Linked DNA regions of Homo sapiens. The protein of the gene in region 3 purifies or fractionates together with the protein of the main gene of each other region. This does not show direct contact. Each region holds a gene or a part of one and is shown on either strand. Other genes may lie near its edges.

The links.
Region 1: the proteins of COLGALT2 (region 3) and KGD4 purify together in Homo sapiens (affinity purification with mass spectrometry; 2 studies listed by BioGRID and IntAct, with this or other methods). This does not show direct contact.
Region 2: the proteins of COLGALT2 (region 3) and VPS33B purify together in Homo sapiens (affinity purification with mass spectrometry; 2 studies listed by BioGRID and IntAct, with this or other methods). This does not show direct contact.
Region 4: the proteins of COLGALT2 (region 3) and COL2A1 purify together in Homo sapiens (affinity purification with mass spectrometry; 2 studies listed by BioGRID and IntAct, with this or other methods). This does not show direct contact.

What each region holds. Positions count from the first base shown.
Region 1 is NC_000005.10:69,213,520-69,220,972, reverse strand, and holds the start of KGD4 (alpha-ketoglutarate dehydrogenase component 4), read right to left. Parts: upstream 3,214-7,453; 5' UTR 3,144-3,213; coding exon 3,102-3,143; intron 1-3,101. UniProt on the Homo sapiens protein: Molecular adapter that is necessary to form a stable 2-oxoglutarate dehydrogenase enzyme complex (OGDHC). Enables the specific recruitment of E3 subunit to E2 subunit in the 2-oxoglutarate dehydrogenase complex (OGDHC).
Region 2 is NC_000015.10:91,012,379-91,019,676, forward strand, and holds part of VPS33B (vacuolar protein sorting-associated protein 33B), read right to left. Parts: intron 5,508-7,298; coding exon 5,427-5,507; intron 4,687-5,426; exon of another isoform or gene 4,647-4,686; coding exon 4,585-4,646; intron 2,056-4,584; coding exon 2,006-2,055; intron 1,494-2,005; coding exon 1,426-1,493; intron 1,293-1,425; exon of another isoform or gene 56-1,292; intron 1-55. UniProt on the Homo sapiens protein: May play a role in vesicle-mediated protein trafficking to lysosomal compartments and in membrane docking/fusion reactions of late endosomes/lysosomes.
Region 3 is NC_000001.11:183,971,622-183,978,919, forward strand, and holds part of COLGALT2 (procollagen galactosyltransferase 2), read right to left. Parts: intron 6,900-7,298; coding exon 6,789-6,899; intron 3,594-6,788; coding exon 3,476-3,593; intron 2,130-3,475; coding exon 1,995-2,129; intron 1-1,994. UniProt on the Homo sapiens protein: Beta-galactosyltransferase that transfers beta-galactose to hydroxylysine residues of collagen.
Region 4 is NC_000012.12:47,980,477-47,987,476, forward strand, and holds part of COL2A1 (collagen alpha-1(II) chain isoform 1 precursor), read right to left. Parts: intron 6,838-7,000; coding exon 6,793-6,837; intron 6,701-6,792; coding exon 6,602-6,700; intron 6,413-6,601; coding exon 6,359-6,412; intron 5,968-6,358; coding exon 5,860-5,967; intron 5,490-5,859; coding exon 5,436-5,489; intron 5,351-5,435; coding exon 5,252-5,350; intron 5,112-5,251; coding exon 5,058-5,111; intron 4,618-5,057; coding exon 4,519-4,617; intron 4,124-4,518; coding exon 4,070-4,123; intron 3,665-4,069; coding exon 3,611-3,664; intron 3,261-3,610; coding exon 3,207-3,260; intron 2,963-3,206; coding exon 2,909-2,962; intron 2,662-2,908; coding exon 2,617-2,661; intron 2,471-2,616; coding exon 2,372-2,470; exon of another isoform or gene 2,321-2,371; intron 2,134-2,320; coding exon 2,026-2,133; intron 1,999-2,025; exon of another isoform or gene 1,939-1,998; intron 1,685-1,938; coding exon 1,631-1,684; intron 1,354-1,630; coding exon 1,300-1,353; intron 951-1,299; exon of another isoform or gene 921-950; coding exon 867-920; and 7 more. UniProt on the Homo sapiens protein: Type II collagen is specific for cartilaginous tissues. It is essential for the normal embryonic development of the skeleton, for linear growth and for the ability of cartilage to resist compressive forces.

The DNA.
Region 1 (7,453 bases), on a different chromosome or scaffold from region 3:
ATCTGTTTAACAAAGCACATCTTGCACCGCCCTTAATCCATTTAACCCTGAGTGGACACAGCACGTTTCAGAGAGCACGGGGTTGGGGGTAAGGTTATAGATTAACAGCATCCCAAGGCAGAAGAATTTTTCTTAGTACAGAACAAAATGGAGTCTCCTGTGTCTACTTCTTTCTACACAGACACAGTAACAATCTGATCTCTCTTTCTTTTCCCCACATTTCCCCCTTTTCTTTTCGACAAAACCGCCATCGTCATCATGGCCCGTTCTCGATGGTTGCTGTCTCTTCAGAGCTGTTGGGTACACCTGCAGAAAGGCTGTCACTTCACACTTGGAAGATTGCACTGCGGCCAGGCAGAGGCGCTCCTCACTTCCCAGACGGGGTGGCGGCCGGGCAGAGGCGCTCCTCACATCCCAGACGGGGCGGCCGGGCAGAGGCGCTCCTCACTTCCCAGACGGGGCGGCTGCCTGGCTAATTTTTATAGAGATGGGGTCTTGCTATGTTGCCTAGGCTAATCTTGAACTCCTGGCTCAAGCAATCTTCCCACCTTGGCTTTCCAAAGTGTTGGGAGTACAGGTGTGAGCCACCGTGCCCAGCTGGCTTTGTCTTTACTTAATGTTCTGAGACCACGCTTTGTGACTTCCTATCAGTTTGTACCAATCAGTCTTTTGGCACTCTTCTCTTCCTTCAAGATATGGATCAACAACCAAATTCTAAGCTCTATGTTTTTTTGTTTTTTTTTTTTGAGTCAGGGTCTAGCTCTACTGTCCAGGCTGGAATGCAGTGGCATGATTATGGCTCACTGTAGCCTTGATCACCCAGGCTCAATCTTCCCACCTCAGCCTCCTGAGTAGCTGGGACCACAGGTGCACATCACCATGCTCAGCTAATTTTTTAAAATTTTTATAGAGATGGGGTCTTGCTATTTTGCCCAGGCTGGTCTTGAACTCCTGGGCTCAAGCCATCCTCCTGCCTCAAACTACCAAAGTGTTGGGATTACAGGCATACATCAGTGAGCCTGGCCTAAACTCTAACTGGCACTGTAGTCCTAGCTTTATAGGCCTGTCACAGAGATACTCAACAAATTTTGCTAATGTTATATGTAATTATTACATAATATTAGCACATACTTTATTATTTATTTTTCGAGACCAGGTCTTGCTCTGTTACACAGGCTGGGGTGCAGTGGGGTGATTGTGGTTCACTGCAGCGTCAAACTCCTAGGCTCAAGTGATATTATATTAGCATATTGGTTGTATTCTCTCTTTTTTTCTTTTTTTTTAAGAGCGCAATCACGAACCTGATTTGAATTCTAAATAGGTGAGTACAGGTCTTTGTTCCTATGTTAGAAGGGCACAGACCATTCCTTACTGTATATCTCACAGTTTCTTCATTTGTTTGCACACATCAGCTGTTAGTATTGCTTTGGACTGTACTATTTTAACAAACTACCACAATTTGTTTATGCAAAAGACAGACATAGAGATTGTTTGTGGTTTGGGGGCTATCAGAAATAGAGCCAGGGACCCCATGGCAGTATATATAGTACCTGCCTGCTGAGATGCCACACTCCTGCTGCCAGGCTGGAACCCCTCAGCTCTGGACCCCAGTTCTTTGCTAGTAACTCTTTTTTTTCTGTGAACATTTACGTACAGAGACAGTATGTGCATTCACTTCTCTTGGGCAATAAACCTATGAGTAGAATTGCTGGGTCATACGGTAGATACATGCTTAACTATTAGAGACTGACAGCTTTCCAAAGTGGCTATAACATTTTATATTCCCACCAGCAATATTGAGGGTTTCAGACGCTTCACATTCTCATCACCACTGACGTCTAAATTTTAGTCATTTTGGTGGATGTGTAGGACCTCATGGTTTTAATTTTTATTTTCCTGGCAAGTAATGATATTGAGCACCTTTTAAAATGTTCATTGCTCATTTGGGTATCTTTTGTGCAACACGCCAAGTCTTTTACCCATTTTTAAATTGTTATATATTATTGATACATATGGTTATATATTATGGATAACAGACCTTTGTCAGTCTCTCAGTCCTTACAGAATCTTTAACTAGTTGATGCTCAGTAACTACCTACTGAATAAGTAAGGATCATTCATTGCAATGGGACCAAAGACTGGGATCTAGGATTATCATTCAGACAACAATTTCAGGAATTTAGAAAAAGGTCTTTTAAGAGATGTACTTATATAAAGCGGAATGTACTTCTCATATCAAAGATAAAAGTCAATTATAAAATAATATAGTTTCAGGGTTCAAAGACTATGTAAACCAACCACAAAAGTGGAGGTTGTGTTCCACTTATATAATAATTTTACCTAAGTTAGAACCACAGCTGAAGAAACAAATAAAAAGGCTATCAGGAGTTAGTAGCTGATAGGTGGATTAACAAAGTTACTTTAGCTGTCTATCTAAACCAGGGGAAAATAGGCTTGTGAAACCAACGCTTATACACACACACACACACACACACACACACATTAATATACACACACACATACTAATTAAACTTAAGTTTACTTTTCTATTTCCCTCATCTGGCCTGTAGCCAGACGCTTGGAGAGGTTGGGGAGAACCCGCTCCGGCGAGGACGCAGTACGCGGGGCCAGTTGCCCGACCATTCCCGAGACCTTGAAGGGACAGTGGGTCAGATCCAGGGTTCGCTTCCTTCCACGCCCCGCTACCGCCTTCCTTCCGATTGGCTGATCGGGGGCACCACAGCCAATCCTAGACGGCGATTGGCCAGGCTACCGCCAGGGTCGCCTCACCCGCACACGCCTAAGACTAACAAGGTCCTGGCGGAGGAGCGGGGGATCCCGGCAGTAGGTACAGGACCTACCTGCCAAGATGCTGCACGGTTGCCGCAAGGCTCGAACCCTCGGCGCCGGACCCACCTCACTGCCCGGTCCAACAGGCTCAAAGTCCCATCCTCACACACACCCGCGGGCGCCGTCACTGGCCCTCCGCAGAGGCGCGGTCACCGCTCTGCCTCTGCCACCGCCTTTACTCCCCGACGCCGTCGCCATAGTCAGCACCGTCCCTACCGCCCAAGATGCGGAAACGCGACAAATTGCTTTACCTGAACGACCCTACTAGCAGACGCCATCTTGCTGCCCATCATGACCCCCGAGAAGGGGCAGTTTCCGGGGCGCGAGCGAGCCGCGGCGATCACTGGAGTCCCGGGCAGCTGTGGGCGGTGCTTCCCGGGACGTCACGGAGGCGGAGACCGGACTGGGCTCTCCTCCGCCGTGGGGCTGGCTCCGCCCCCTGTGCCTGACCCCGCCCACCCCTTCTCCCTACTAGGATCCACCCACGTGTGTTCTATTGTTTCGTTTTGGGGACAAAATTTTGTTAAGGTGGGTCTCTGCTCATTAGCCTATAAATTGTCTAGGACCATTTCCTTTCCAGAAAGCCAGTCTATAATTTCGATATAGTTCAAAATTTTATCTGGAACCAAATAAATAATACAACCTTCTTATCTGACAGCTCTTGCAAAGATTAAAAAAATTAAAGAAAAACAAAAAAAAAACCTTGCGGTTTCCTAAAATGAATAATTTCGTTAAAATGGGAGTTAGTGGCAAGCTCACAAGAGTTTACTCTGGCTTAAAAAGGGCCATGTCACACTCTCTTGCTGATTGGCATTGCTTGATTGTAATTTGTTTCTGTTTTCTTTACCGTTTATTACTCCTGATATCGAACTGCTGGGCCTTTGCTTCAAGTTGAGATAACTCAAAAATTCAGAAATATTTGAAATGTAAGCCACTCATATCTTTCCCCCAAAATTACATTACGGGCGGGGCGCTATGGCTCACGCCTGTAATGCCAGCACTTTGGGAGGCTGAGGCGGGCGGATCACTTGAGGTCAGGAGTTCGACACCAGACTGGCCAACATTGTAAAACCCTGTCTCTACTAAAAATACAAAAATTAGCCGGGCGTGGTGGCGGGCGCCTGTAGTCCCAGCTACTCAGGAGGTGAGGCAGGAGAATTGCTTGAACCCAGAAGGCAGAGGTTGCAGTAAGCCGAGAGTGTGCCACTGCACTCCGGCCTGAGCGACAGAGGGAGACTCCGTCTCAAAAAAAAAAAAAGTTACATTACGTTCTGTGATAATGCTTAGGTTATATATAGTATTGTAAGCTTGACCAATGTGTTTGATGATATACATCAGTGATTTCTAAGTCTTGGGATCTTTTTAGAAATATAAATTACTGAACCCAGGTATGGTCTATTGGGATTCAGTGACTACAGAGAGGCCATTAACCCGTTTTGTTTTGTTTTGTTTTTGTGGTTTTTTTTTTTTTTTTTGAGACGGAGTCTCGCTCTGTTGCCCAGCCTGGAGTGCTGTGGCGTGATCTCAGGTCACTGCAACCTTTGCCTCCTGGATTCAAGCAATTCTCCAGCCTCAGCCTCCCCAGTAGCTGGGATTACAGACGCCCGCCACCACGCCTGGCTAATTTTTGTATTTTTGGTAGAGACAGAGTTTCACCATATTGGCCAGACTAATCTCCAACTCCTGGCCTCAAGTGATCCACCCACCTCAGCCTCCCTAAGTGCTGGTATTACAGGCGTGAGCCACTGCGCCTGGCCCCATTTTAATTATTTTCAAATGTGCAGTTCAGTCACATTAAGTACATTCACATTGTTGGGCAATTGTTACCATCTTCAGAAACTGTACCCATTAAACAAAAACTTATTCCTCCTTCCCTCAGCCTCTGACAACTATCATTTTACTTTCTGTCTATGAATTTGACTACTGTGGGTACTTAATGTACGTGGAGCCATAACAGTATTTGTCCTTTTGTAATTAGCTTGTTTCACTTAGCATGTCTTCAGAGTTCATTCATGTTGTAGAATGTGTCAGAATTTCTTTTTTAAGGCTGAAAAAATCCCATTATATGTGTATACCACATTTTGCTTATCCATTCATCTGTGGTAATTCTTTTTTTTTTTGAGACAGAGTCTTGCTCTGTCACCCAGGCTGGAGTGCAGTGGTGCCAACTCGGCTCACTGCAAGCTCCGCCTCCCTGGTTCACACCATTCTCCCACCTCAGCCTCCCAGGTAGCTGGGACTACAGGCACCCGCCACCACACCAGGCTAATTTTTTTTGTATTTTTAGTAGAGACAGGGTTTCACTGTGTTAGCCAGGATAGTCTCCATCTCCTGACCTCGTGATCTGCCCGCCTCAGCCTCCCAAAGTGCTGGGATTACAGGTGTGAGCCACCGTGCCCAGCCGATAATTTTTTTTTTTTTTTGAGACAGAGTCTCGCTGTGACACCCAGGCTGGATGCAGTGGCATGATCTCAGCTCAATGCAACCTCTGCCTCCTGGGTTCAACTGATTCTCCTGCCTCATCCTCCTGAGTGGCTGGGATTACAGGTGCCCACCACCACGCCCAGCTAATTTTTGTATTTTTAGTAGAGACAGGGTTTCTCCGTGTTGGCCAGAATGATCTCAAACTCCTGACCTCAGGTGATCCGCCCACCTTGGCCTCCCAAAGTGCTGGGATTACAGGTGTGAGCCACCGCACCTGGCCCAGTTCAATGCTTTTTAGAAAATTTTCATTTGAGACTCCTTTGACCTATGCCTCATTTAAAAGTGTGTTCAGTTTCCAAGTATTTGGAAATTTTCCTGTTATCTGACTGTTACTGATTCCTCATTTGATTCCCTTGTAGTCAGAACACAGTCTGTATAATTTCAATTCTTTTATATTTGTTGATATTTTGTCATCCAGGATATGGTCTATGTTGTTTATGTTCTGTAAGCACTTGAAAAGAGTGTTCTGCTGTTGTTTGGTGGAGTATTCTATAAATGTTGATTAGCTCCTCTGTTAGTCCATGTGTGCTACTGTAACAAAATACCTTAGTATGGGTAATTTATAACCACAGAAATTTATTTCTCATGTTCAGGAGGCTCAAAAGTCTAAGATCAAAGTACCAGCAGTTTCGGTGTTTTGTGAGGGCTCAGTCTTTTCTTCCAAGATGGTGCTTTGAACACTGCTTCATCCGAGGGGTTTAACACTGTGTGCTCACATGGCAGAAGGGCAGAAGAGAAGGAACCCATTCCCTCAAACTTTTTTTTTTTTTTTTTTTGAGACAGTCTTGTTCTGTCACCCAGGCTGGAGTGCAGTGGCACAATCTCGGCTCACTGCAACCTCCATCTCCTGGGTTCAAGCGATTCTCCTGTTGCAGCCTCCCAAGTAGCTGGGATTACAGGCGCCCTCTACCACACCCAGCTAATTTTTGTATTTTTAGTAGAGATGGGGTTTTGCCATGTTGGACAGGCTGGCTTTGAACTCCTGACCTCAGGTGATCGGCCCACTTTGGCCGCCCAAAATGCTGGGATTACAGGTGTGAGCCATTGTGCCTGGCCCTCAAACCTTTTTTTAAGGGCCTTAATCTCATCCATGATGGTTCTGTACTCATGATTTAATCATTTCCAATACCTTTTCGTATTGTCACATTAGCAATTTTCAATAGATGAATTTTGAAGGACACAGTCAGACCATAGCTTACCGCCTTTGGCCCCCCAAATTTATGTCCTACTCACATGCAAAATACATTTATCGGACGCTTGTTGCTCACACCTGTAATCCCAGCACTTTGGGAGGCTGAGGCAGACGGATCACTTGAGGTCACGAATTCCAGGCCAGCCTGGCCAACACGGTGAAACCCTGTCTCTACTAAAAATAAAAAAAATTAGCTGAGCGTGGTGGTGTATGCCTATAATCCCAGCTACTTGGAAGCCGAGGCATGAGAATTGCTTGAACCTGGGAGGCGGAAGTTGTTCACAGTGAGCCAAGATCGTACCACTGCACTTCAGCCTGGGGGACAAAGGGAAACACTGTCTCAAAAGACAAACAAAAAAAACCCAAAAATACATTTATCCATCCCAGTAGCCCCAAAAGTCTCAACTCATTCCAGCACCAACTCAAAACTATAAAGTCCAGAGTCTCACCTAAATCAGATATGGATGAGACTCAAGGCCATGACTCATCCTGAGGCAACTTCTCCTGCAGCTGTGAGCCTGTGAAATCAAATACATGTGCTTCCAAAACACAATGATGGGTCAGGAACAGGACTGACATTCCCATTCCAAGAGGGAGAAATAGGCAAGAAGAAAGGAGTAATAGGTCCCAAGTAAGTTAAAAACCCAAAAGGCCAACAACATTAACTCTTGAAGCTTGAGAATAATTCTTGACTCAGTATCTTGCCTTCAGGATGCATTGGGCTGGGGGTTGGACCCCCAAAGCCCCGGGGCAGCCCTACCCCATGGTTTTGATGGGCACAGTTCCAACCCAGCAGCTCTCAGCAGTTGAAGAGAGGTACCTGGGCTCTCTCAGGCAAGTATTGCATGCTGATGGCTCTACAGGTCTGGAGTCTGCCCTCCATACAGGGGTGGCCCTGCCATACAGCTCTGTAACAGCCTTTTATTG
Region 2 (7,298 bases), on a different chromosome or scaffold from region 3:
AAAGTCATCTCACTTAAATTAAAAGATAAGTACTATTATCAACTCTATCTTCCAGATGAGAAAACCGAGACACGGAGCAGCTCAGTACCTAACCCAAGACCACACAGGTAATAAGGCCTCAAGGGTGGATTTTATCCAGACAGCCTGGTTTCAGAGGCTTCAGTCCTTAGTTACTGCCTCTATTTTCTCTAGAATTTTCTTAGAAAGATTGAAAAGGAATAAATCCCTGTTCTTCCTAGTCTAGCTTCTACCTTCTGTAAGTATGCATGCACTACTTGCTGTAGCTTTAGAGGCCTATGGTTGGCAAGGTAAAGGCCTGGAACGTCATTCCTCCCAATCACTGGGATTGAGGATGCACGTAGCTGATGTGGAGGTGAGAGGGGAGCTCAATGGAATCAAGAAATGGACAGACTATGATGGACCTCCAAATATGTACTGCAATTATTGAGTTAAAGATGGAAGAGCTCTACTCTGGCTGTGCTAACTCACTGTGTGAGCATGGGCTTCAGTTCCCTCAGCTGCTCAAAGTTGGGGTGGAGTAAAACAGTCTCTAAGGTTCCTTTCCTGTGCAAGAAAAGGCTTTTCCAATATATGGTGGCATGGTTCTAGTAACCCAGGGGCAGCCCAGCCACATCCTTATAAGCATAGCGGATGGGAAGAGGGAGGGTGATGATTTATCGTATTTATTCTTAAAGGGATACAGGGAGAAAGTCACTGGAAAGCCGTAACATTGTGCACCATTACTATACTAGAGTTTGTGTTAGGGATACAGAGCAGGTTCTACCTCGCAAGCGTGAAGCTTTTCATTTAAAAAAATCTACGTAGAGGCCTCTTCGCACAATTCCACAATACTTTATTTGGGACAGTATGATGACAGACCCTCTGCTAAACAAATGAGGATATGTTAATGAATTGAGGATGCGTTAGTGACAGGTATTAGGTTCAATCACACATAATTTGCTTTGAGGGAGTGCTATGGTTTGAATGTGTCTCCCAAAAGTTCATCTGTTGGAAACTGAATCTGCAGTGCAACAGTGTTGGGAGGTGCAGCCTAATAACAGGTGATTGGGTTATGAGGGAGGAGTCCTCATGAATGGATTAATGTCCTTATGGCAGGAGTGGGTTGCTATAAGGCGAGTCCAGCCCCTGGGTGTCTCTTGGTCTCATGTGCTGGCTTCCACCTTCCACCCTTCTGCCATGGGATGACCCTCGCCAGATGCCAGCCCCACAGTCTTGGATTTCACAACCTCCCCAGACCATGAGCTAAATAAATTTCTGTTCATTATAAATTACCTAGTCTCAGGTATTCTGTTACAGCAACAGAAAACGAACGGAGACAGGGAGGTAGTGCTGTTGGCCCCTTACCCCTGCCCGGTCCTCAGTCCTGTTCTACCTTATCCCACTTCCTCCAGGATCCAAACTCACCTTTTGAGGGCTGAAGATCACTTTGTATTTGCGAGTTCGGCCAGCCAATTTGTCAGCATTGACAAGACCTACAGAGAGAAGGAATGCAGCCCAGCAAGTCATGGGCCATCTGTTATGCTAGAAACAGGGAAGCTGCCGGGCACAGTGGTTCACGCCTGTAATCCCAGCACTTGGGAGGCTGAGGCGGGTGGATCACCTGAGGTCAGGAGTTTGCGACCAGCCTGGCCAACATGGTGAAACTCTGTCTCTACTAAAAACACAAAAAATTAGCCCGATCTGGTGGTGGGCACCTGTAATCCCAGCTACTTGGGAGGCTAAGGCAAGAGAATCGCTTGAACCCAGGAGGCGGAGGTTGCAGTGAGCCGAGATCGTGCCATTGCACTCCAGACTGGGCAACAAGAGTGAAACTCCGTCTCAAAAAAAAAAAAAAAAAAAAAAAGAAGCGGGGAAGCAGACATCCTCCACAAGTGCTACGGCCAACTCAAACAATTATTTTCTTATTAGAGGGTCCTTATGGCCAAGGCCCTTAGATTTTGCCCGCCCTTTCCCACAGTTACACATAGTACCATGGCACACTCACTGGCAATGTATCGCATATTCTTGATGCGGGGTCTGACCAAGAAGCACAATCTATGAGAGAGAAAGAAAAAAAAACAGTGAAGAAGAATTATCAAGTTGGATAGCAACTTAGAAGAAACTGAAACAATACCAACTCTTTTGCCATTTGCCCTACAGGTCTCATCCTAGCCAAAGCTATGCTATTCTCTTGGTCCACCATATACCAACCACAGAAGATACCTCTCAACACAATGGGTATAATGTGATGAGCTGGGTACATTACTGGCCCTATGGTGGACCCAAAAGTTCCTGTTCTCAAATAATTTACAATCCAGTGGGCAAAAAAAGATGCAGATATGGAGTATATTAACAATCAGTGCTGAAAAACAATATAAGAATACCCCATAAAAATATACAATTATTATCTGTCAGTTAAAAATAAAGGCTGGGCATGGTGGCTCACACCTGTAATCTTAACACTCCGGGAAGCCAAGGTGAGAAGATTGCTTGAGCTCAGGAGTTCGAAACTAGCCTCAGCAACACAGTGAGACCTCATCTCTATTAAAAATAATAATAGTGCTGTAATCCCAGCACTTTGGGAGGCAGAGGCGCGTGGATCACCTGAGGTCAGGAGTTTGAGACCAGCCCAGCCAACATGGTGAAACCCCGTCTCTACTAAAAATACAAACATTGGCTGGGCATGGTGGCTCACACCTGTAATCCCAGCACTTTGGGAGGCAGAGGCGGGTGGATCACCTGAGGTCAGGAGTTTGAGACCAGCCCAGCCAACATGGTGAAACCCCGTCTCTACTAAAAATACAAAAATTGGCTGGGCATGGTGGCGCATGTCTGTAATCCCAGCTACGCAGGAGGCTGAGGCAGGAGAATCGCTTGAACCCAGGAGGTGGAGGTTACAGTGAGCCCAGATCGCGCCATTGCTCTCCAGCCTGGATGACAAGAGCTAAACTCCGTCTCAAAAAAAATAAAATAAAATAAAATAATAATAAATAATAATAGTAAAATAAAAGAACTATAAGGCCTGGCGAGGTGGTGCATGCCTATAATCCCAGCATTTTGGGAGGCCAAGGAGTGCGGATCACCTGAGGTCAAGAGTTCAAGACCAGCCTGGCCAACATAGAGAAACTCCATCTCTACTAAAAATACAAAAATTAGCTGGGCAAGGTGGCAGGCGCCTGTAATCACAGCTACTTGGGAGGCTAAGAAGAATTGCTTGAACCTGGGAGGCAGATCCCGCCACTGCACTCCAACCTGGGTGACAGAGTTAGACTCCTACTCAAAAAAATAAAATAAAATAAAACTATAGGCGGATGCAGTGCTGCACACTTGTAATCCCAGTTACTCAGGAGACTGAGGTAGGAGGATCCCTTGAGCCAGGAGCTCAAGGCTGCAGTGAGCTATGATTGCACCACTGCACTCCAGCCTGTGCAACAGAGTGAGACCCTGTCTCTGAAAATAAATAAATTTAATTAAAAAAATTTAAATATAAGAAAGTAATAGAAAATATTTTTTTTCAAACTGGGGTACATGGATATATTCTCCATGTATCCAGGAGAATTTTTTCTTCTAAGAAAGCATGTACATTAATTAAGTTTCAGAAATACTTTAAAATCAAGACAACAGCTGTACATGACTACATGCCGAGCGAACAGGACAAATACAAAATGCCATGGAAATCCAGAGGAGAAAATCACTCTAGACTGGAAGGGCAACAGAGAGCTTCATGGAGGAGGTGGCCGGGCTCTGAAGGATGGACATTCTTTATAGGAGCAGTGAGGACAGGAGAGAATTTCAGGCAGAGCGAATGGAGTGATGAAAAGGGTGAAGGCACAGGCTGAGAGGCAGGTGGAAGCACATGTCAACAGAGGCTTGAAGGGGACACACGAGACAAGGCTGGAAAGGTAACGTGGGAGGCCACGCTGCAGACAGCCTTGAAGTCTATGACAAATAATGTGGACAATCTTCAGCAAGTAATAAGAGGCCTTGCAGATTCTTCTTTTTTTTTTTTTTTTTTTTTTTTTGAGATGGAGTCTTGCTCTGTCACCCAGGCTGGACTGCAGTGGCGCGATCTTGGCTCACTGCAACTCATCGCCTCCCGGGTTCAAGCGATTCGCCTGGCTCAGCCTCCTGAGTAGCTGGGATTACAGGCACACGCCACCACACCTGGCTAATTTTCGTATTTTTAGTAGAGATGGGGTTTCACCATGATAGCTAGGCTGGTCTCTATCTCCTGACCTCAGAAGATCCGCCCGCCTCGGCCTCCCAAAGTGCTGGGATTACAGGCATGAGCCGCCGCACCCAGCTGCCTTGCAGGTTCTTGAGAAAAGCACGATGAAAATAATTTTGAAAGATTAGTCAATCTGGTTATAGACTGTATTATAAATTAGAGAGGGAAGAGGACAAGAAACCACAGAAAGGAAACTACAGAAAACAAAACAAAACAACAGAAGATTAACCTAGCCATGAAATTGTAAAGTTCAGGGAGGTGAACCATATATCTCAGCCAAGGACAGATGAAAGGCAGACGTGCCCCTAGGGACCTCTTCCAGCTTGGAGTAGGGACAGACTCTCCCAGACACTCACTGTTCATTGGAGCTGAGGGCTGGCTTGTTCTCCACCTTGTATAGCTTGTCTACTTCGTGTTGCTACAGAGAGAATCCAATAAGACAATGGACATAAGAGTGCCTGAAAAGCACAAAGTGTGACACGAAGATAGGGGACTTCTTGAGGGCTTCCTAATTATGCTAATTATTGAGGGCTTCCTAATTATGCTAATTATGCTCCCCTGACGACCATCCCACTGAATTTTCCTCAAACTGTCAATAGAAAAACCTAAAATAAAACAATATAAAAACAGTATGGGCCAGGTGTGGTGGCTCATGCCTGTAATCCCAGCACGTTGGGAGGCCAAGGTAGGAGGATCACTTGAACCCAGGAGTTTGAGATCAGCCTGGGTAACATAACAAGACTCCATCTCTACAAAATTAAATATATATATATATATATATATATATATATATATATATATATATATATATATATATTCTGTAGTAAACAGACTCAGAAAAATAAATAATAAATTTAAATTTAAAAATTAACCAGGTGTGGTGGCACATGCCTGTGGTCCCAGCTACTTGGGAAGCTGAGGCAGGAGGATCACCTGAGTCCAGGAGGTCAAGGCTGCAGTGAGCTGTGATTGTGTCACTACACTGTATTCCAGCCTGGGCAACAGAGAGAGACTCCGTCTCCCGCCGCAAAAAAACACAAAACAAAAAAATACGAACAGCATCAATCTCCCTTTTCTACCCAATTAAGCTACCCTATATTTGCCCTACAAGAGTAGTCACTCTTCAGTAGTTTGTATTGTTCATCAAAAGAAAAACTGCTTAAAGAGGGGCATGGCCCCCAGGGGAAAGGGACAGTACCTTCAGGATGGAGACATTGGCAATTCGATCCAAAGGGCTCATGAGATCTGCCTCAATGAATAAATCCTTTTTTCCAGGAAGCTGAAGGAGACACAATATGTTGGGTCACTCACAGGTCACATGAGCTTCCGCAGCTGAGAAGTGGCCCAGCCACCCATCTAACAGAAACAGTCTCTGAGGTGGGAGGGCACTAAGTATCGTCTAGCCCGTCACCTTATTTATTATCTGTATCCACAGTTGACACTTCTCTGTATATTTACCTATTTTGCCTTCTCGTTTTCTGTACCAGTGGGAAGAAGACATCCCACCTTCTTTCTCAGGTTAACTCCTTGTCACTCAACCCTTCTGCTCACCTGTGACCTTGGTCTGCACCTCACTCCCCTTCTCTGCTGCCTCCTCCACTCTGGCTCCTAACCACCCCTGGTCTCCTGCTGAACAAAGCCAAACACAACAGAACCCCACCTTGCATTTTTCTCCTAAGTACAAAATAAAATAGCACACGTTCACTGCAGAAAACTTAGCAAACCCAGGACAGTCCTCACCCCATCACCCTTCCACTCCCCCACCCCACAATCCCTGTCATACGATTCCTGCACCACCACTCCTGACACCGATCTCAATGTCTGTTCAGAGGAAGGAGAGGTCACAGTTAGTGACAGGGAGGGGAAAGTCACTGGGAGTTTCCTCTCACCCAGGCCTTCACAAATGAGTAGGGTGTTGACATGGATGGATGAAGAGGACAGTCCAGCAAAGATCAGAAAGAGAGCATAGGCTGTGTAGTAAGGGGACGATTTTGCCCTCCGAGGGACATTTGGCAATGTCCAGACACATTTTTGGTTATCTGACTCAGGGTAGGGGTTTTACTGGCATCTTGTGGGTAGAGGCCAGGGGTGCTGCTAGACATCCAACAATGCACAGGCCAGCCCCCACCACAAAGAATGATCCAGCCCAAAAAGTCAACAGTATAGAGAGCAGGAAATCTTTTTTTTTAAATCTTATTTGTTGTTTTGTTTTGTTTGTTTGTTTTTTGAGATGAAGTCTCCCTCTGACACCCAGGCTGGAGTGCAGTGGCGTGATCTCGGCTCACTGCAACCTCCGCCTCCCGGATTCAAGCAATTCTCTGCCTCAGCCTCCCGAGTAGCTGAGATTACAGGTGCCTGCCACCACACCTGGCTAATTTTTGTATTTTTAGTAGAGACGGTGTTTCACCATCTTGGCCAGGCTGGTCTTGAACTCCTGACCTCATGATCCACCTGCCTCGGCCTCCCAAAGTGCTGGGATTACAGGTGTGAGCCACTGCTCCTGGCCTGTTTTTTTTTTTTTTTTTTTTTTTTTAAAGATAGAGTCTTACTCTGTCGCCCAGGCTGGAGTGGCACGACCTCAGCTCACTGCAACCTCTGCCTCCCAGGGTCAAGCAATTCTCCTGTCTCAGCCTCCCGAGTAGCTGGGATTATAGGCGCATGCCACCACACCTGGCTAATTTTTGTATTTTTAGTAGACATGGAATTTCGCCATGTTGGCCAGGGTGTTCTCGAACCCCTGACCTCCTCAGGTGATCCACCTGCCTCAGCCTCCCAAACTGTTGGGATTATAGGTGTGAGCCACCACGTTTGGCCTTTTTAAATGTTTATTTATTTTTTAGTTTCCCAAACTCAAAATGGTCAACAGAGGGTAGGAAATCTTGAGGTAGGTGAATGGTGAAAAATAGACCAAAATAGTTGGTTAGAATTGAGCAGGAAGGGCTCCAAATGCCAGCTTAGGGGAGTGTGGCCTTGATCCTCTAATTAACAGGGAAAAATAAAGCTTTTGTGTATTGAAGCATTCCAATCAGCTGGAAATGTTAGAGGAATCTGAAGACCAGAGAAACAGGAG
Region 3 (7,298 bases):
TCCCAAAAGAGACACAGAAAATAGCACGCATTCAAAATCTCTTACAGCTAGAAGAAATAATTACAACAAAAGAGGAATGCTTCATCCAGTGGTGTACTGGACCACACATTGTTAAATTTTCAGAAAGTTTGCAAACCAGTTGACATGTTGATAGCTTGGAATCCATAAAAACAAAAATCACGTTAATCCCCACCACTCTAATGACACCTCATGTGGCAGTTTTACATGTTTTTAATAGCTGTATCATCAAGTGGCTATACTGCAGTTTACTTAACCTTTCCCTTAGCTTAACAACATTTAAGCTGTTTGCATGGTGGGAGTATTTAAACCATAAAAATTGGCAATGCTACCAACTAGGGTTTTTCCCACAAAGAGCCAGTTATTAAACATTTATCAGCACACTACTGACCTTATTTCTCATCCAAAACAAAACCAAATATAAAGGGGAGACTCAAACTTTAGCCCTTTGGCCATGAGAATACATTGAACATACTCCCTCTTTTTTTGAGACAGGGTCTCAGTTGCTTAGGCTGCAGTGCAGTGGTGTGATCATAGCTCACTGCAGCCTCAACTTCTTGGGCTCAAGCAATACTCCCTGCTCAGCCTCCCGAATAGATGGAACTATAGGTGTGCACGACACCACAACTGGTTAATTTTTTGATTTGTTGTAGAGATGTGGTTTCGCCATGTTGCTCATGTTGGTCTCAAACTCCTGGGTTCAAGTAATTGTCCTACCTCAGCTTCCCAAAGTGTTGAAATTACAGGCATGAGACACTGCTCCTGGCCAACATATTTTGCTTAGCACATTTTTATCCTACATTGATACATATTACATTAATCAGTTGAATTTATCTAATTCTTTAATTAAAGAATAAAAAATATAACCAGCCATGAGCATTCACTAAAACAGACCACTATTTTGAAGATTTTACTATGAAAAAAAGAAATAATAAAAAATCAAACCTTTTTTAACTTGAATTTTATAAAAATAACCTACCATGGTAGTTTTCATTATTAGAACTCTTTGGAAATAAATTTGGCAACATACATCGAAGGTCATTGAAATATTTGTACTTTTTTTTTTTTTTTCTTTTTTGAGAGGGAGTCTCGCTCTGTCACCCAGGCTGGAGCGCAGTGGCGCGACCTCGGCTCACTGCAAGCTCCGCCTCCCAAGTTCACGCCATTCTCCTGCCTCAGCCTTCCGAGTAGCTGGGACTATAGGCGCCCAACACCACGCCTGGCTAATTTTTTATATTTTTAGTAGAGATGAGGTTTCACCATGTTAGCCAGGATGGTCTCAATCTCCTGACCTTGTAATCCGCCCGCCTTGGCCTCCCAAAGTGCTGGGATCACAGGTGTGAGCCACCGCGCCTGGCATATTTGTACTGTTTGACTCAGTAATTCCACTTCTAAAAAGCTATCCTAAGGATATAATCTTAAATGCTGAAAAATTATATTAATCATGACGGTCACGATAGTTAAAAAGTTGTGAATAATTTAAATGTTTTTCAAACCGAGATAAAGGTTAAGTAAATTGGAACATAGCCACTTGATGATAACACAGTTACTAAAAACGTGCAAGTTTCTATCTATGATGTTGTTACGGTGATGGGGATTTAACATCTGTCTTGTTGGTTTTCTTTTAAACTTTTTTTAATTTCTAAGTTTTTCTATAGTGTTCTTATGTTAGTTTTGTAAGGACAAAAAGAATTAATTAAAAATAGTAATTCCTGAATCAGGAATTGGCTAATTTGACGTTTCTAAGGCTAAGCTCTTTAGACTATTTTTTTCATAATAAATTAACACAGAAGAGCCCAACTGGGTGTAGCATTGGACCCAGATTTACTGCCCTTCCTAAAAAATGCTTGCTCTGGGAACACAATGACACGCATGTTTCAAGGGAGTAAACAAGAGAAAGGTGAATGGGACTACTGTTGACCGGGTGTTGCCTTGTTAAAACTAGTAGCCTTAATTCATTTAAGCAAAAGACTTGCCTTAGGGGTGATTCCGCACCAGAAATTAGAATACAGGCCCCGAGACTCCAGCATGGGGGCCACAATAGTTTTGTTTTCTGCAATCAGTAGATTGAGGGTCTGTGGATTAGTCAGGAAATTGTCAACATCTATGAACTAGGAAAAGAAAAGGATAATGTTAGGTGAAAAGGTACTTTTCAGTAATGAGTTTGAGAATAACCCAGCCCTTCTGAAGGATCCCAGAAACTTGCTCATGACATATGGAACCAGCTATCTATGTCCTCCTTATTGAAACCCATTGCAGCTAGGTGGCTTTCATTCAGTCAAAATATATTTAGTCTAACTTTCGTATGTTGGGCTCTGCATAAGGCACTAAGCAGTAAATTGGTGCTGCCATACTGGGCATAGCCTCAACCAGGAACCAACCTACACTTTGGCTAGTGTTTTAGGCACAAGATATTAATGGCTCCCAAGCCATTAAAGGTTCATTCAAAAACACTTATTGGCTGCCCAGTCTAGGTACAGATGGGCATGCCTACTTAGCTTTTCTATAGTAATGCCAGAGTAGCTCAAAACAGATCTATCAATGAATTTTAATGTGACAAGTAGAATTTTTGTTTAAGTACATTATATCAACCCATGCTAACCAGTGAAGCTATTTCCTATTCTTAGAAGTCCATGTTAACAGTGATTTATTTAGAGACAGTATAACAACAGATTCTAATTTATAAAAGAAATAATCATACTGAACTATACACTGAAAAAGGGATAAACTGACAGATTTTACCTTTTGTAGGTTTTATCACAATAAAAAATTCAGAAGTCTTCATTTTTATGATAGTCCATCTGTTTACCCCAAATTTTGTGATTTAACATTTGTACACTTCAATGGCATTTAAACAGCTACACAATGTTAAATATTGTCAGTACAATTTGAAAACTTCTATGAAAGGATTTGTGTCACAAGTGTGCGTGATACATTTTTGGGCAGATTTTCACTGTGGTTGAGGGGATGGGGATGGACATAAATTCTCCAAAGAGAGCATCACTGTGCCAAGCAACAGATGCTACTCCCCAGATCATTCAGGAGCAAAAGGGAACCATTTCAGAGCTGTTCAGCTGAATCACTTTTTTAGATAATTACTTTTTCATATCCCCCAAATTCTTCCAAAAAGTTGTAAGAACAACTTACATTGCTTTACCTACAGCCTTTCCTGTGAGCTAAAAATATGCAGAGTTCTTATGCCTGTTGCATGGCAGAGACCAAATAATTCAGGCACTTCTTCACTTACCCACTGAAAATGCATGTGGGCCTGAAGATGAAGTCCAGGTAGCCCAATTTTAAACTACCAAAAATTTCATTGTGCCTTTCTTAAAAAGTGGGGGAGGCACTGCCTAATCAAAAAGGTTGTTTTGATTGCTTCCATGGTTCTAGTTTTTGGACGACTGATTTGGATACACCTGAGATGACAGTTGTCAAGAAATCAAACATCTGTTTTTACCAGAATGTAGTCTGACCATTTTTCCCTCGCAGTTCGAAGGGCTGCCTGTCGTAGTTTCATCACATGGGCAAACCGGGAGGTTGGCCAGTGCTTTGGTCCAATTTCATCAGGGTAAGACCTAAAATAATAATAATAGCTCATCATTATTGAGTGCCTACATGTACCAGGCTCTGTCCTAAATGTTTATATGTATTCATTTAATCTTCTATCAATCCCAGGAAGTAGATACTATTATTATTGTTATCATCATCCCCATATTACAGATGAGGAAACCGGAGCAATGAGAAGTCAAGTAACTCACTGCTCATTGTATACAAGAATCTTTACATGAAATATTTCAGTGGGTTCTAATGAGAGCCCTTTGAGGTGAGTACTGCTATTCTCTGCATTTCACAGGTGAGGATATCAGGGTAGAGCAGTTAAGTCATTCGTCCAATGTTACACAATGGGGCACAATCAAGATTTGAATCCAAGCAAAAAGCTCATGTTCCTAGACAATTTTTATACATCCCGACATCGAATAGATTTGGAGAGTATGCAGTGTAAAACATGAGTTTCCCAGGAAAATCAAAGGTTTAATCTACTTGTTGGAGTCTCCACAAATGATTCCACACAGCCTAACACATTGATCTATCTTAGGTAAAGTGAGGTCGTGGGATCTCTATCAAGATTCACAAAACAGCCAGGCCAAGACTCCTTCATGGCCACATAGGCAAGTGGGTTGGAGCACGCTCCAAAACCCTTCTGAAGGCACCCAGCTGGCACGGACATTGATACTGTTGCAGTAACCCAAAACTGGCCACCACTTCAAGATCTCATAGCTGCACTGGCAGTACATTTGTTTTAGTGAGTGAAAAACTGCAAAAACAATGAGACTGTAACTAAACAAATAAGGTTAATAAAACTATGTACAGCACAGGAATTCTCTGGAATATCTTCCCCAGTTATTGTTTCAATGAAAATCAGTGGAATTCTCATTTTTCTAAATATATTCCCCCCAAAAATGCCTGTTCTAATATTTTTTCACACTGACCTTGGCATATAATATATTTAGTCAAAACCTGGCTGCAGAGAACATTACCAAGGTGCAAAGAAGGGACACAAAGTATTTCTGTGCCATTTTTGTTAGGCCAAACTCCATTATAAGGCACTCTAAAGGAGTGTTTACAATCTTTTACGGTGTTCAGACTTCACTGTTAAATTTTGCTTGATATACAGTCCATGGGCTTGGATTTGAGAAACACATATGTATATATTATATCATATTTATATATATTTCTTTATAATATAAATATTTATAATAATTCTTACATATAGAAAGACTAGAAGAACAGAAACTTGTTCTGGAATGGCATTTATTATTACTATAATACAAATTTGGCTTTCAATAAATGACTTCTCTGGGGAAGAAATTCAGGCAACTCCTTCATTCTATTTCTACAGTTCCTTAAAGTAAAACTGTAGTAGCTTTGGGAACATTTATAATAGTAAGTTTTAAATACATTTATTCTTGTTCTTATTTGTTCATCCAACCAGTATTAATTTAGTGCCTGCCAAGAACATGGCTCTGAGGGGAGAGGGGGAATATAAAGTGTTTATATATTCTAGCCCCTGCCAAAGAACTTACAACTTATTTAGAAAAAAAATACATTAATTGCATAGGGGGAAAATGTTGGTTGCGTATATCATTGTGCCAAAAAGGATGACATAGAATATAAGCAATACAATTGTTGAGACAAAGGTAGATATTTATAACTGAGTGATTAAGAATAGGTTTCTATAGTAGGCATGATTTAGGATAAGAATTAGTTATAAAGAAGGAAAGGGTCTTCCAGGACCTGCACAAGCAACAGTGTGGGGTTTGGAAATAAAAGAAACGTTCTGGATAAAGCACATTTTCTTTTGGTGCTAAATTCATGGAATTTTAAAAATATAAGTCTTAGGTGTTTGAACTTTGTTCAGGTCCTAAAGAGTAAGTGAAGTATTTTTAATAAAGAAATGAAACCATTTCATTTGTATTTGAGGTAGATTGATTTGACTGTATGGTATGTAGGATGACTTGGAGATAGAAGCAATTAATAAATTGCTATGGTGGCCGGGCACGGTGGCTCACACCTGTAATCTCAGCACTTTGGGAGGTCAAGGCGGGCAGATCACAGGGTCAGGAGATCGAGACCATCCTGGCTAACATAGTGAAATCCCCTCTCTACTCAAAATACAAAAAAATAGCTGGGTGTGGTGGCACACACCTGTAGTCCCAGCTACTCGGGAGGCTGAGGCAGGAGAATTGCTTGAACCCAGGAGGCGGAGGTTGCAGTGAGCCAAGATTGCACCACTGCACTCCAGCCTGGGTGACATAGCAAGACTCTGTCTCAAAAAAAAAAAAAAAGAAAGAAATTGTTATGGTAACCAGGCACAAAGGCTCACACCTGTAATCCCAGCACTTTGGAAGGCCAAGGTGGGAGGATCGCTTGAGGCCAGGAGTTCAAGACCAGCCTGGACAACATGGTGAGATCATGTCTCTACAAAAAATAAAAATAAAATTAGCCAGGCATAGTGGTGCATGGCTGTGGTCTTAGCTACTCAGGAGGTTGAGTGAGGAGTATTGCCTGAACCCAGGAGTACGAGGTTACAGTGGAGCTATGGTCATGCCACTGTACTCCAGCTGGGGTGACAGAGTGAGACCCTGTCTTGAAAGAAAGAAGGAAAGAGAGAAAGAGAGAGAGAGAGAGAGAGAGAAAGAAGAGAAGAGAAGCGAAGAAAAGAAAAGAAAGAAAAGAAGGAAAAGAAAGAAAGAAGGAATTTCTATGGTTAAGATAGGAAATTACCTAAATGAGCATCAGTAGGGGATCAATTAAATAATTATGGTAAATGCACATACAACAGTGATTATGCAGTAAAAAAAATGAAAATTAGCTCCTTAACTATTGCTATAGAATGATTATCAAGATAAAAGTTGAAAAAAGCAAGCTCTATGTAGAAAGTATACACATTTTCAATATGATCCTCCAAATATAAAAGTTTGTTTAAAATATGAATAAATAATATCAATATTTAAAAATATAAACTGTCATGGCAATTTATTTATGAAGTAATGAAAATCTGAACTTGGCTGGCAGCTGTGGGAGTAAACAGCAAGAGAGTACTGTGAAGATCTCTAAAAGGGAGAAATGGCAGATATTCAGAACTCACATAGCTACAGAAATGAAAGACAATGAAAAGTCACATGTACCTCCAAACCTGGAAGCCCTAAAGAGCTAGTTAAAGAGGAAGGGTAAATAATGAGTTTACAAATTTCGCACTTGCTACTCACTCTGGTTCATCCATAGGCCTCCACTCCACATAGTGATAGAGTCTCTGTACATTTTTCAACCACTCCCTGAATATTTCTGTTGTATTATCCACATTGTGATCAGTGGCTGCCCTGCATGAGAGAAAGCACAATATAGTTTAACTATGTCATCCAATGAAAGAGAGGGAAATCCAAAAGACCCCTGACTAACTGAAAGAAGAATGGCTACTCCTGGAAAAAAAATTGTATATATGAAAATAATTCCCTCATAGTCCAAACTAGACAATAAATTTCCAAAGTGAGAGACACTGCTTAAAATCATCTTTGTGTCATTAGATCCTAAAACAGGGCTCAGCCAATTGGAGAACGTGTAAATGGTTGCATTAATAAATAAACACATGAAAACACCAAGAGAGTGTAAGCATAAAATGAATTAACTGAGAGTCAATTAATGAATCTTCTTGGAAATTTTTCTATATGTTTTAACTTTCAGTTACCCAGGATGTAAACTCCACCTTTTAACTTCATTAA
Region 4 (7,000 bases), on a different chromosome or scaffold from region 3:
GCCTGCTGGGGCCTTCCCATCTGCACGCCAGGAGCCCTTCCTTGAGGGAACAATTCTTGGAGTGCAGCGTTACCCACCTGAGGCCCAGGTGCTCCAGAGGGGCCCTGAGGACCAGGGGCACCAGCATCGCCTTTCTGGCCGGCCTCTCCTTGCTCACCCTTGGCCCCAGGCTGGCCATCAGCACCCTATAATGGGAAGGAGGAAGCAGGTGAATGAGGGGCAGGCTAAAACCCTGGAGCTCTTCCAGAAGAGCAGGAGACTCTGTGAGTATCTGCGTGTGTGTCCTGGTCTGGACATGATGGTTCTATTAGTATGGAGGCGGGAAAGGAGAGGAGAGGAGCATCCATTTCCCTCCCTGACAAGCTCCGATGCCCGAGGGTGCTGGATGTGGAACTGGCCTGAGTGGAGGGACCCAGGAGGATGGACAGAGATACTCACAGGAGGCCCAGCAAATCCCGCTGGTCCGGGGGGCCCAGTCTCTCCACGTTCACCCTGTGAGAGAAGGGGGCATGGCGAGAGGTCAGGCCCCGCTGCCTGACCTGCTTCTGCTCCCCTCCAAGAGCCCCTTGGGCCCTGCCCAGCCTCCTGTTCCCCAGAGACGGGGATCTGAAAGCAGCCTTAGTCCTGAACGCAGGCAGAGGCTCTGTTAACCCAAAAGCCCTCACCCTGAACACATGATGGGAGTGACGTGCCTTCCCCCTTCCCTTCCCATCTCTCCTCCCACCCTAGACCCAGCGGGTAGGGAGGGAGCCAGTGCCTGGCAGCACACAGGGCCACCAGGCAGCATGAGGGCCTGCACTGACTCCCTGGCTCTCTGGTTCCCAGGGGCCTCGGGCAGAGCCAGGCTCAGAGGGGCAGACACTCACCGGAGCGCCACGAGCACCAGCACTTCCTGCAGGACCAGGAGGTCCAACTTCTCCCTGAGGGTGGGGAAGGGAGGAAGAGCTGGGGTAAGAAGGTGGGGAGGCAGAGTGGGAGAGGGCAAAGTGCATTTGGGGGGCCTTGCTCGTGGGAAGGGGGCTCCAGGTCCCCCTGGCACAGCCTGTGTTACTGTGCAGCCCATACCCGCACCCTCTCGAGGGCCTCTGCTGAATGTGTGTTTACCCCAGCCCAGTTGCCCCACCCAACAGGGAACACTGCCAGCGGCTTCACTTCTGAGAGGGCCCCCTCTTCACTCCTACGGCCTTGGCCGAGGGTGACAGTGGTGAGGGAGGACAAGACAGAACCGCCTTTGGCAGGAGATAAGAAGGAGGTGTGACAGGGAGGCAAGGTGTGGAGAGGAAAGGAGCCGGGACTCACCTTCTCGCCATTAGCACCAGCTGGGCCAGGGGGGCCAATGGGACCTGTCAGGCCCTGCGGGGAGAGCAGGTAGAGGTGAGGGAGGCAGGCTGAGCCAGCCGAGCACGTGCGGCCCGGCACCAAGCCAACCTTGGTGCGTGCTCCCACCGCCTCCAGAGCTCCCACTTACCCTCTGGCCCCATTTTAACAGAGAAGTCCCTGCAGTTGCCCAGCCCCGACAGAGACAGGACCAGGGACCCCAGTGGCAGACTGCCCAGCCCTCTCTCCTGCTCTCCTGGGTGCAGGGCTAGGATCCTAATGCCCAGCAGTCCAGCAGCCCGCATTCACTTACTCGTCCACCATCCTTTCCAGGGGCTCCCTCAGGGCCTTTCTCACCAACGTCACCCTGAGGGAAGAGAAAACCAGCCGCCTCAGCCAGGCACCCCAGGACCCCCATGGTTTGCTCAGTCCCACCCAGGCTGGGGTGCTAGGGAAAGCCCAGTCCCTGCCCAAGAGGAATTTGCTGTGGTCTCAGGGTGGGTGAGGAGCAGCAGGGGTGAGATGAAGGAACAGGGGAAAGGATGTCACTAAAAGGCAGGGAGCTTTGGAAAGGAGTCTTTAAGCTCCTCAAAAAGGGCTAACAGAAACCTTCATCACCAGGTGCCATAAGGGAACGGAAGCGATCACAAGGGGCAGGAATGTGGCAAAGCCACAGCTTTGGTGAGAGGCTGTAACCTCAGTACTTACCCTGTCGCCTTTGGGCCCAGCGATACCAGCTGCTCCCCTCTCGCCAGGCATTCCCTGAAGACCTGGAGGGCCCTGAGCCCCAGGGGGGCCTGCTGGGCCAGATGCACCCTGGGGAGGGAGGTAAGAGGGAGTCTGTAGTGGACAGCACCTCTCCCTGAACCCATGTTCATGGAGCCTGGGTAACCAGGGCCCCAAACCCCTCTTCCTTCCCTTCCTCCCATGTAGACCTCCTTTCCAGCTCCCCCCACTTCTGTTCTTCATTCCTCCTGAGCCCGCTCCTCTTCTCCCTGCTCAGTGGGACTCCCAGGCTACCACGAAGACCCCTACAGGATGCAGCCTCACTTACTTTGGGACCATCAGTGCCAGGAGTGCCGGGGAGGCCACGGGGACCCTGGAGGCCCTGGGCACCGGGAGAGCCACGTTCACCTGGGAAACCTCGTTCACCCTGCGGCAGAGACACCAAGAAGTGATCAACCAACAGCAGTGGGGGAGAAGGTCCAGGGAGAAGCAGGGAGGTGGGGAAAGGAGCAGGAGCATAGGACCCAGGGCAGGCCCAAGGAGGCAGCCCGCATTGGCCAACAGGATACTCACCCTGGGACCCACGAGGCCAGGGGCTCCAGCTTCACCGGGAACACCCTGGAGAACAAAGAAAGATGTGTGAGAGTGAAGGCTTCATATCACAGACCCCTGAACAATTCTCCACAGCAGGGCTGAATATCACTCCTCCCATGGGGGATTGTGTCATCTGTGGAGGCTGGGACATGGGTCCAGGACATTCCCAGGCCTCACAGGGCTCCTCATGCCCTCTTGCCCTTGCCTCCTAGGCATCAGAAAAGACCTTCCCATCTAAACAGGTTGCAGGTCCAAAGAGCCCCATACTCACCTGGTCACCTGGTTTTCCACCTTCACCTGGGGGACCAGGAGGGCCAGGAAGTCCCTAGAAGCCGAAGTGACAAGCGTTAGCAAAGGAGTGAGTTTGCTGCCCTGGCCCCCAGGGAGGCACAGTATAGGGCAGACCCAAAGAAAGGAAGCAGCAGCAGTGACAGCCAGGGGTGCAGGGAAGGCTCGATGCCTGGCACCCTGCAAGAGGTGTGGGCCCTCCACCGATAGTGCCTGCTGCTGTCCCAGGGAGCCCTGGGTATGGCAAAGGACTGCACAGAGAGCCTGGTCCAGCCACCTACCTGGAACCCAGATGGCCCAGGAGCACCCTGCTCGCCTCGTTCACCAGCAGGTCCCTGCAGTGGAAAAGAAAAGGTGAGCTGAGCCAGTGTTCCAGAGACCCTGAGAGCCACAGCTAGTAGGGCCCAGGGGAGGTCAGCAGGGTGGGCAGCACAGGCGTCTTCCTGCACCACTCAGACAGTGCATGCATGCCTCCCTGCACTCCCATCAGCCACCCACACTCCTCTCCACCAATGTGGGTCCACACAGCCTCCTGGGACACCCTGCCTCAGCTCAGAGTGAGTCTGGTGTATCAGCTCAGCCCACATTCACATCTGTCAGCTCCATTAATGGATGGGCTCTCCCACCCCCACCCCTCCCAGCCCCTGCCCCCAGGGCCACCTGGGGAGGCTGGGCAGGTACTTACAGCAGGGCCAGGGGGTCCTGCAGCACCTGTCTCACCATCTTTGCCAGGAAGACCCTAGACAGAAGAGAAAAAGAAAAGTCAATGACACGCTTTTCTTCCCACTTGCAGTCCCCCTAGGATTGGGCAAAGGTACTTCTGGCCCAGAGTTTCCAGACCTCCACGGTACCCCAGCTGAGCTCCATTTCCACACCTTCCCCTCCCTTCCTTCCCAGGCCCCGTCTTTTCTTAGCTGTTCTCAGCATGGAAGCCTTCCCCAGCTCCCCGGCCTGCTGACCAATGGCAAACAGAAGTCTCCCTGTGTAGACACCCAAAGGGCCCAGCCAGCATGGGGCTCAGCCACAGAGATCAACACTCAATACTGAGGGGTCCCGGGACCATGCCATGGGGAGGCCGTTCCCCTGTCCTCCCTGCAGATGCCCGGCCAACACCAAGTCATGGGCAGCGGGGAAGGATACTTACCCTCAGACCAGGAGCACCAGGCAGTCCCTTCTCACCAGCTTTGCCAGGCTCACCCTGAAGGAAAGAGAGGGCAGGGCCATGAGGCGGATGGTTTGGGAGGGAGTTGGGGGCAGAGCGGGCTGCAGGGACTGAGGCCTGGGGCCACATCCTGATGGACAGCCAAGATAAAGCAAAGTATCAGCCCTTCTCTTCTGTTCAGGGGCCATAATGGCAACCAGCCTGCTGGGCACTGCCACATGGAACAATTATGGCCGCAATGCCCCGAGGCTCTGTGGGGCCATGGATTTTCCCCAAATCACATACAGACCCCCACTGCCACCCATGGCACAGGAGCCCCACTCATCACTGTCCCTGGTTAAACTCTACTCAGGACCCAGCCCTTTCCCCAAGAGGGCAGGGAGGTAGGTAGCACCACATGGAAGGAAATAGAAGAGCAAATTATTACTTACGTTGGCACCTTTGGGGCCAGGGAAACCCATGACACCAGGCTGCCCACGAGCCCCCTGAGGACCTGGAGGTCCAGGACGACCATCTTCACCAGGGGCTCCCTGAAAGACAGAACACCATTCTCAGAACATAGACACTCTGACCACATCCATCCACCCAACATCCACTAAGGGCCTACATGGCAGGCCCAGGACTAGGCACCAGCCACACATGCTCAGCATCTAGGATTGACCACATCACACCCATGGGCCCATCTACAACAAGACACCGCTGAGCTTAGAAAGCTGCCCCAGAAAGTGCACACACGATGTCATCATTCCCCCAAGGATAAGCCCCGAATGCATACTGGGGTGGCATTTTCAGTGCTCACAGCTACTGCACAGGTTACATCTGGCCCCAGTGCCTACCATCTACCCCCTGTCACAATTCTCAAAATTCACAGTACTTCAGGCCTCCCTAACCCAAACTCCATCTCTCTTTTCCCTTGCTTCCCCAGGGAGATCCCCCCACCCTCCTAGCAGCCCTCAGAGGATAGACTTACAGAAGGGCCAACTTTGCCTTGAGGACCAGCATCACCAGGGCGGCCAGTGAGACCCTTTGTTCAGGAGAGAGAAGAGGGTGGGGTCAGGAGCCGGCCCCAGGACCTCCCAATCCTGGCAGTGCAGGGCTGGAAGGAGCCAGCCAGGAAGGGCCTGAGGGTCTGAAGCCAAGGGCAACAGCAGCTCTGCTACTTACCCGGGCTCCAGGAAGGCCAGGTTCTCCAGGACGGCCAGGGTCACCGTTGGCTCCCTTGGGGCCAGCAAGACCACTGGGCCCTCGCTCTCCAGGGGCTCCCTACAAGGGTACACAGGGAGTCAGTGGGATACCATGTGACCTCAGCGATGCAGGGAGGGACCCCAGCCCCTCTTCTCCCACTCACCTTGGGACCTGCCAGACCATCTTGACCTGGGAAACCGCGGTTGCCGGGAGCACCCTAAGGAGCCACAGGGAGGAGAGGCAGTGAGTGAGAACAGCCCCAACCCAGCCAGGCTCCAGTGGGTCCATCCCACTAACCCACCAACCCCAATTTCTGGGGAGCAGTAGCTGTGGCCTGCAGGATTCTCAGAGGTTAACTTCTGGAGCCTGCCCCGCTTCCTGGGAAGGAGCTCAGACTATTTCATGTCAGTCTGGTGGTTGGCGGCACAAATCAGGATCAGACTCCCTCTCCCCGCGGTGTGGATGGAGAAAGAGGAGGATGACATGCGGAAAAGTCACGAGACTTGACCAGAACACGGACCACAAGGACTCCACTTCCCTCTCGAGGTCACAGGCCCCATGGGATGGAGCCTCCACATTCACTTAACTCTTTCTCCAGGGGGACCGATGGGCCCAACGCCACCAGGCTCTCCACGGGCACCTCTCTTGCCTTCTTCACCAGCGGGTCCAGGGGCTCCCTGGGGGCCAGCAGGGCCCTGAGGACCAGCAAAAAAGAGAAACAGAGTGAGCCTTCACCTGGCCTTGGAGCAAGCCTCGACTCAGAGTATGAAGGAAGTAGCCTTGGCAACTGTTTCAGGGCTGGGGGGGGGCTTGAGGACGAGAGGCCATAAAGGACGAGCCATGGCAGGGCAGAGGGAAGTGAGAGGGGCTAAAGATCCAACTGTTCACACTAGCCAAACCAAGGATGGGAGCTGAAGCTGTATCTGGGCCTTCTCAGCCCTGTTAAGTCTCCTCCAGGCATAATCTGAAAGGACCCAGATTGGGGGATAGAGCCCTGGAGGAGGGAGGTGGTGGGTCAGTGGGGCTGAGGCCTGTGCCTCATAGAACAGCAGCAGAGAAGACAAGGGCTTGGGGGCAGATACTCACAGGTTCTCCCTTGGGGCCTTGTTCACCTTTGAAGCCAGCAATACCAGGTTCACCCTTGAAAAGAGAGGCAGGTCCTCACACCAGATTCTCTCCAGGGAGCCTGCCCCTCCCCAGAACCCCTGTTCAAGATGCCCTCGGATGGAGGCCGCTGTGAGGCCAGGGCAGGAGAGCATGGGAAAGAGGGGTGATGGGGTTTGACTCCAGAGATGTCAGTGGAACTTGGGGGTCACTTTGGGCTCTTACCGTCTGACCTTTCGGGCCCAGAGGACCAGTTGCACCTTGAGGGCCAGGAGGGCCCCGTGGCCCAGGGAAGCCAGGAGCACCAGCAATGCCAGGAGCACCCTGTGGGCATGAGAAGAAGGGAGGGGTGTCAGGAGAGGGGAGAGGCAGGACTGGGCTCTCCTGGGGTAGCAAAGTCCACGGGCAACACTCACAGCAGATCCTTTGGCTCCAGGAATTCCATCTGTTCCAGGGTTACCCTGAAAAGGGAGACATTGTCAAATAAGCAGCAAAGAATGAACCCCAACCACCTCCAGCCCTCCAGGATCCAGATCCAGGGACCTGGCATAGGTGCTGTCCATTTCAGGGACATTCCCACTATGTGTTTCAAGGGGAAGATGGGATAGAAGGGAATACATCTAG